Linked DNA regions of Homo sapiens. The protein of the gene in region 1 purifies or fractionates together with the protein of each later gene. This does not show direct contact. Each region holds a gene or a part of one and is shown on either strand. Other genes may lie near its edges. The genes, in order: MAPK10 and RDX.

Evidence for each region.
Region 2: the proteins of MAPK10 (region 1) and RDX purify together in Homo sapiens (affinity purification with mass spectrometry; one large-scale study listed by BioGRID and IntAct). This does not show direct contact.

The regions. Positions count from the first base shown.
Region 1 is NC_000004.12:86,062,729-86,066,553, reverse strand, and holds part of MAPK10 (mitogen-activated protein kinase 10), read left to right. Parts: intron 1-2,163; coding exon 2,164-2,288; intron 2,289-3,825. UniProt on the Homo sapiens protein: Serine/threonine-protein kinase involved in various processes such as neuronal proliferation, differentiation, migration and programmed cell death.
Region 2 is NC_000011.10:110,289,790-110,293,614, reverse strand, and holds part of RDX (radixin), read left to right. Parts: intron 1-3,825. UniProt on the Homo sapiens protein: Probably plays a crucial role in the binding of the barbed end of actin filaments to the plasma membrane.

The DNA.
Region 1 (3,825 bases):
ACTTCGTGGTCTGCCTGCCTCGGCCTTCCAAAGTGCTGGGATTGCAGGTGTCAGCCACGACCACGCCCGGCTAACCCCAGCCCTTTCTAAGAGCAGAAAAATGGATAGATTTGATGAGAGAATCTTATGAGAATGGTACATGAATTTGGATGTAAAATCAGTTACAAATTAAAGAGGTCTTTAAAGCAATGAATAAATAAACACAGCCCTGTTAGGCTATTAGGAGGCCATTGGCAATGAGAAAAATTAAATATTGAATTAATGTATAAGTATTTCTGTATTTTTGTTATTCCTGTGCGGTACAGAGTTTTAATTTGAAAGTAATGATAATCAGTTTCTAGGATTGAGTTTCCCAGAAAAATGATTAATAGAAATAAAAAATTCTCAAGTTTAACTAGTGATTTTTCATATTTGTTCAGAAAATTAAAAGATATATTTATTGATGTAATTACCAAGAAAATACTTACAGGTAAAAAATTAATTGCTACATTTTAACTATAGTATGGTTAATATTACGTGAAAAATACATGAACGGCACTAGAAAAAATATGCCAATAATCACAGTCATTGCCTCTAGCTAGTGGGGTTAGATATTATTTCCTGATTTTTGTATTTTATATAATTTTCAAATTTGTAGAATTAGCCAAGTTGTTTTAATCTGAAAAATTGATTAAATAAAAATTGATATGTATCCAGAGTCATCTATGTTGATTTTTTGAAAAATCCATTTAAATTTTGTTATCTTTAATTTGATGTTTTACCATATAGTTAGAATAAACTGAATATTTTCACGGTTCAACTTTCAGATCAGTTGAGTAACAATATTGATTTGAGATATTCATTTCTGTTAAAACTTTATGTAAAAGACTAGGGGAGGGATAGCTTTAGGAGAAATACCTAATGTAGATGACAGGTTGGTGGGTGCAGCAAACCACTATGGCATGTGTATACCTATGTAACAAACCTGCATGTTGTGCACATGTATCCCAGAACTTAAAGTATAATAATTTAAAAAATTTACATATTTTTAGAGGTTAAAATTAATGTGTCTTTTAACAATCTTACTAAATAAATAGCTATCACCATATAATTTTATAACTGTTACTGCCCACAACCATAAAATTAATTATGATAACCTTTACATAATATAGAGTTTCTCATTAGTGTCTGGTGTAGCATTAGACTGGCTTCAGTCTTTAACTACTGGATTTCATCAAGTCATGATTCCATTGATTAAAAATACCTGATGATTACAGAATGTTAAAATAAAATTCAGTAGTTGAATGATATTATTTCTATCACTTCAATTCTTTGATTGTTTTTATGTATATAAGAAATTTGTGGCTGGGAGCAGTGGCTCACTCCTTTAATCCCAGCATTTTGGGAGGCTGAGGTGGGAGGATCTTTGAGCCCAGAGTTCGAGACCAGCTTGGGCAATGTAGGGAGATCTTATCTTTACAAAAAAAAAGAAAGAAAGAAAAAATAGCCAGGCATGGTGGTGCATGCCTGTAGTTCCAGTTACTCGGGAAGCTGGGATGGGAGGATCCTTTGAGCGCAGGAGTTCCAGGCTGCAGTGAGCTGTGATCATTCCACTACACTCCAGCCTGGCAACAGAGGGATACCCTGTCTCAAAAATAAATAAATAAATAAATAAACAAAAACAAAAAGAAAAGAAAAATTTGTATGATACAAACTCTTAAGTCAATTTATATACTAAAATTCTGATAATTCCGTTGTATAAATAAGAATATAGAGACACACGTGTTGATTAACTTCAAACAGCCGTCCACACATTTGTTGAACATCATGCATTTGCACTCTGTGCTCTTTATTCTGTTTATCCTATATTCATGCAGGTTACCAAAGAAGATGACTTTGCTTACATAAACTCTCCAGGTTGATACATTTTACTAAGAAGTTTGCGTGAATAATTATATACCCAAAGTGTTACAACCCTTGGAGAGCCTCAGAATGAAGCCTTAGGCTTAGAGACACAAAGAAACAGGTGTAAAATGCATTTTCTTTTCCATCACATCAAGGGATTTACCTGATGTTTGGAAGGAAGATACTATTCCATACTTTGTTTTCTTAAATTTCCTCTCTGACAAATTTCCTTACTGAAATCAAAATCTTACTAATTGTTTTTCTCATTTATTGTTTCAGCCAGCCAAGCCAGGGACTTGTTGTCAAAGATGCTAGTGATTGACCCAGCAAAAAGAATATCAGTGGACGACGCCTTACAGCATCCCTACATCAACGTCTGGTATGACCCAGCCGAAGTGGAGGCGGTAAGAAATAGGCTGCCTTTACTTTGCTTCCACAAACAAATCATAGCTCATAGCAAAAACTGAATAGGACTAGAAGCCTAAAGAATGCACAATGGATTTTTATAAAATTTCTAAGTCCAAAGCCTATTATCTGCCCCTCTAAAAGCTATTTTCTTCAACATATGTTTTAAATACATTTTTTTCAGGACTTACTAGAAGAGGGTATGATTTAGTCCTACAAACCTTAGATGTCCATGATACACTACCATTTGTTTCTGTTAAATTGCCAATACTTGTGTTTCTTCTTGTGTGTTTGACTGCCAGTCTCTTCTAATGCAAACTTAGTGGTAGGAAACAACAGAGGACAAGTTGCTTAGCTTGTATTTTTTTTTTGAAAAGATACCTGCCACTAGTAAAATGTGATACTTAAGAATATTTCAATTAGAAAGCTTTTATAAGATGATTAAAACGATTGGTGGCTTTGTGAAACCTTGCATGAACTAGATGAACTAGAAGTGGGTATTTCAGTAAGTACATTACTTCAGGTTGATCAGTATGATGTATCTCCATGTCTGATACCCAGACATGGAGAATCTTCTCAGAAGCATAACTCTTTCTATTTTAAAAATATTTTTCAACCATTTACTATCTTCTGTTCAACCTCTTTCTTTCATCTTTACCTCTCTCCTTTCCTCTGTATGGATCCAGGGCTGAGCAGGGCAAGGGGGGCTTGCTGTTGCCCATGTGTGTTCTATAGGCCTCCTGATGAGAATTTCCTTTCTGCACTGCCTTTAAATGTTTCTATCAGGAATGTTACCTTCTCCCTTAAACATGAGAAGCTTCTCAAATTCTTAGAGTACCTGTGCTAAAGCATCTCATATTTTTTTACATAATACCTTCCAATCCATTTGTTTGGATTTGTTCTTAATCTTTCATTTGAAATACTGTTTGTTTCCCCAAAGTATTCTTAAAGATATTTTCACTTTCTTTCAGTTTTCTTTCCTCTGCTTCACCATGTGTTTTTCCATGTCAGAGGTGCTAGATTCAAACACATAATTCTCATTTCTTCATTCTTCACTAGAGAAGATACGAAAGAAAGTGAGAACTAGGTAGAATTGAACTTTACAGACACAATATTAAACAGGTCCTTTTCATAATGTAACCCAATCTTTAAGCATTTAAAAACTTCAGAGAAAACACTTAAGTGATTAATGAATCTCCCAAGTGTGAAGACTGCACTACATTTTGTTTAAGATCTGCTCTCTTAGTTTTACAATGATGTTGAGATTTCATGTTGCCTCAAGTTAATTTTTAGTCATTTTATTTGATTCTTACCAAATAATATCCCTACAATTAAATATTTCTGAGTTTAATTATAATGTTCTAAAAATTAATATATATTCTTACAACCAAAATATAGAACCTCTTCCAGTCTCCCACACTTGGGAAATACTTGCACAGATGTTCTTGGGATGGAATGAAGTAGTGAAGTAAGTGAGAGAAAGTATGATGTATATGTTTACAAAAATTAAGTATAAAAATTTTATCTCTGATGAAA
Region 2 (3,825 bases), on another chromosome or scaffold:
AGATTATTTTAAGTCTCATGGCATTACTGATCCAGCTGAAGACTGTTCTGGTAACTTCCTTGATTGCTGCAGCCAGGGTGTGCGTACTGCTTTGATGATAGAGGTGTCCAATCTGGCCCCAGAGAGTTCCTCAATTTCTAGCCTATTTTAGAGAAATCCTGCCTTTCCTACTTTAAGTTCCTGGTGTATATCTTTATATTGAATGTATAGCTTAAGCCATTTAAAAAAAACTATAAAAGTGATATATTTTATGGCAAAGTTTAAAAACTCAGAAAAATGTCAAGGAAAAGGTCAAAGTCCTCCTTACTCCCTGGAACACCCCAGCCCCTTTCCCAGTCCTGTTTTCCATAGGTAGCTGCTGTCGGCAATTCCTTGTTTATAGAAAATGCCAGTAGGTATGCAGGGATAAACATATACTTTATATCCCTTATTTGTGATTTTAAAGTCTTGTTAAAATAGGGTTATATTGTAACAGACATTGAAAGGATGCTTATTAACTTGTGTTAAACATTGAGTAAATCATATTTCTCATGTTTTCATCATTTGAATAAAAGCACACAATAGAATTCCCTACGCTAATTCTCAAGTGTGTGTATGTGCAAATTTGTTTGTGTACAGATTTTCTTGATTAATGATTGAAGATGAAGTTTACTTTTTGTTTTCTAGCATATGGCATATAGTTGACAATGAGAAATGGTGTCTTTTAAAAAAGGAGGTTTATAATTTGGTGTGGGAAATAGCCACATCTTGCTCTTTACAAAAAAAGTTTGCCAACTCCTTAGAAAAAACATCCTGTTGAAAGGATATTTTAGATACAGTATTGAAGAAACAGGTACTTCATTGTTTATTTTCTCTAAGATTATAGAATTTATAAAGCTATTAGTAATTGAGATAATGGACTGTTTTCTTCTGAGTTGTAGATAATCTCTATGGCTTTCAGGACCTTAAATGTTTTTTTTTTTTAATTTATTTGTGAAAAGTTTAAGTCAACTAGGACTGACTGCAGGTAAATTTGTGAAGTGAGCGCTCTTCAGTTTTGAGCCCTTAGATCCTTTAAGATGCATTGGCATCAAATAGCAGAAAATTCTCCAACTGGTTTAAACAATGAGGAAATTTAATGTCATTTTTTTCTTCATTTTTTTTTGAAAACAGAGTCTTCCTCTGTCACCCAAGCTGGAGTGCAGTGGCACTATTACAGCTCACTGCAGCCTTGACCTCCTGGGCTCAAGTGATCCTTTAAGTTCCTCCCACATCAGTCTCCCTAGTAGCTGCCAACACAGGCGTGTGCCACCATGCCTAGCTAATTTTTTTTTTTTTTTTCCAAGACAGGGTCTCGCTCTGTTGCCCAGGCTGGAATGCAGTGGCATGATCTCAGCTCACTACAGCCTCTGCCTCCAGGGTTCAAGCGATTCTCCTGCCTCAGCTTCCCTAGTAGCTGGGATTTAAGGCACATGCCACCAGGCCCGGCTAATTTTTGTATTTTTAGTAGAGACAGGGTGTTACCATGTTGGCCAGGCTGGTCTCAAACTCCTGACCTCAAGTGATCTGCCCGCCTTGGCCTCCCAGTGTGCTGGGATTACAGGTGTGAACCACTGTGCCTGGCCAACAACTAATTTTTTAAAAAGCCTTTTTGTAGATACGGGGTATCCCTATGTTGCCCAGGCTGGTCTCAAATGATCATCCTGCCTCAGACTTCCTGCCTTGGACTTTCTGCCTCGGCCTCCTGAAGTGCTGGGAGGATTACAGGTGTGAGCCACCATGCCTGGCCAAAATTTAATGTCTTGCATACTAAAAGTCCAGAGGCTCAAGAATGGTTCAATAATGACATCAAGGACTCCTTCTCTTTCCAACTCTCTTCCCTGTGATTTTCCCTATTAACTTCATACTAAGACAGCCCTTACCCATCTCAATTTGGCTGCTGCAAAGGAGCCAGGAGCGGTGGTGTGGACCTGTAGTCCCAGCTACTCAGAATGCTGAGGTTGGGGTATCACTTGAGCCTGGGAGGTCAAGCCTGCAGTTAGCCCCTTGTCCCAGTTTGGCTGCTGCATCCCATCCAGACAGGGCAGTATCCAAAGGAATAAGAGGAACTGTTTCCAGAAACCCCCAAGCAGATGTCTTTCGAGCCTCATTGGCCAGGATTGGGGCACATTCTATACCTAACCAGTCAACTGGCAAGGGTAATGGAATTGCCCTTTCTTCCAACTCTGTTCCCAATAGATACTTCTTTTTTCTTTTTCCTTCCTCCCTCCGTCCCTCCCTTTTTCCCTGTCTCCCTCCTTCTCTCTGTCACTGTCACCTCTCTGCTGCTGGAGTACAGTGGCATGATCATAGCTCCATGCCACGAACTCCAGGGCTTTGAACTCCGGGGCTCAGGCAGTCCTCCCACCTCAGCCTCTGGAGTAGCTAAGACTACATGTGCACACCACCATGCTTGGCTGATTTTAATTTTTTTTAGAGATACAGTTTCACTATGTTGCCCAGGCTAGTCTCAAACTTCTGGCCTCAAGTGATCCTCCTGCCTCAGCCTCCTAAAGTGCAGGCAACTGCACCCAGCCCTGTTATTTTCATTATTCATCTATATTACATGTCTTCGGTCCTTTTTTTACCCCCACCCAAAGTCATATCCAAAATTGATCCATTACAGATAGTCATATGTAGTGAGCTCATATCTTTGTAGGTACCAACTTCAGTTAAATTATGAAAGGAAAAGTGTTGATTCTTGTTAAAATACTTGGCAAATTGTGGTCCATGGGCTAAACCCAGCCTACTGCCTGTTTTTATAAAGTTTTATTTGAACACATCGTAGCTGACTTGTTTACATATTATCTATGGCTGCTTTCCTGCTACAACAGTAGAATGGTTTCAACAGAGACTGTGTGGCTTACAAAGCTTATAATGTTTACTTACCTGGCCCTTTACGGAAAAAGTTTGCCGACCACTGCTTTAAGATGTCAGTCGTACATTTGGACAGTTATTATATGCCACATACTCTTTGCATTTGAGAATGGAAAGATGAGTAAAATACTCAGGAGTTCTCACTCTAATGGGCAGATAGATGTGCCATATTGTATTCATAAAGTGTGTTAAGTGCTTTTTTTTTTTTCTTTTTGAGACTGTCTCTGTTGCCCAGGCCAGAGTGCGGTGGCTTGATTATAGCTCACTGTGACCTTGACCTCCCAGGCTGAAGTGATCCCTCCACCTCAGTCTCCCAAGTAGCTGGAACTATAGGAGCTTGCCACCACTCCCGGCTTTTTTATTTTTTGTAGACACGGGGTCTCACCATGTTGCCCAGGCTGTCCTGGGTTCAAGTGATCCTCCCGCCTCAGCCTCCCAAAGTGCTGGGATTACAGGCGTGAGCCACCACACCTGGCCTGTTAAGTGTCACAGTAGTGTGTATAAGTTAATTAATACTCCTTGCAGCAGCATTTTAAGCACAGTATTCTGTGCTGTGAGTTCTGGATGTTTCTTGCTTCCTCTGTTTTTTTTTCTTTGTTAAATCTTCCTGTTGTTTTTGTAAATTGACTGATAATCTTTTAATAAGTTAACCAGAGTGGGTATTTTTGTTTATAACAAAAAATCCTGGTGAGTACATGGAATAATGTGGATGCATTAATGCAACGTAAGGACCCTTGTTTTTTTTTTTTTTTTTTTTTTTTTTGAGACAGTCTCACTTTGTCACCCAGGCTGGAGTGCAGTGGCATGATCTCAGCTCATTGCAGCCTCTGCCTCCTGGATTCATGCAATTCACCTGCCTCAGCGTCCCGAGTAGTTGGGACTACAGATGCACACCACCAAACAGGTCACCACGTCTGACTAATTTTTATA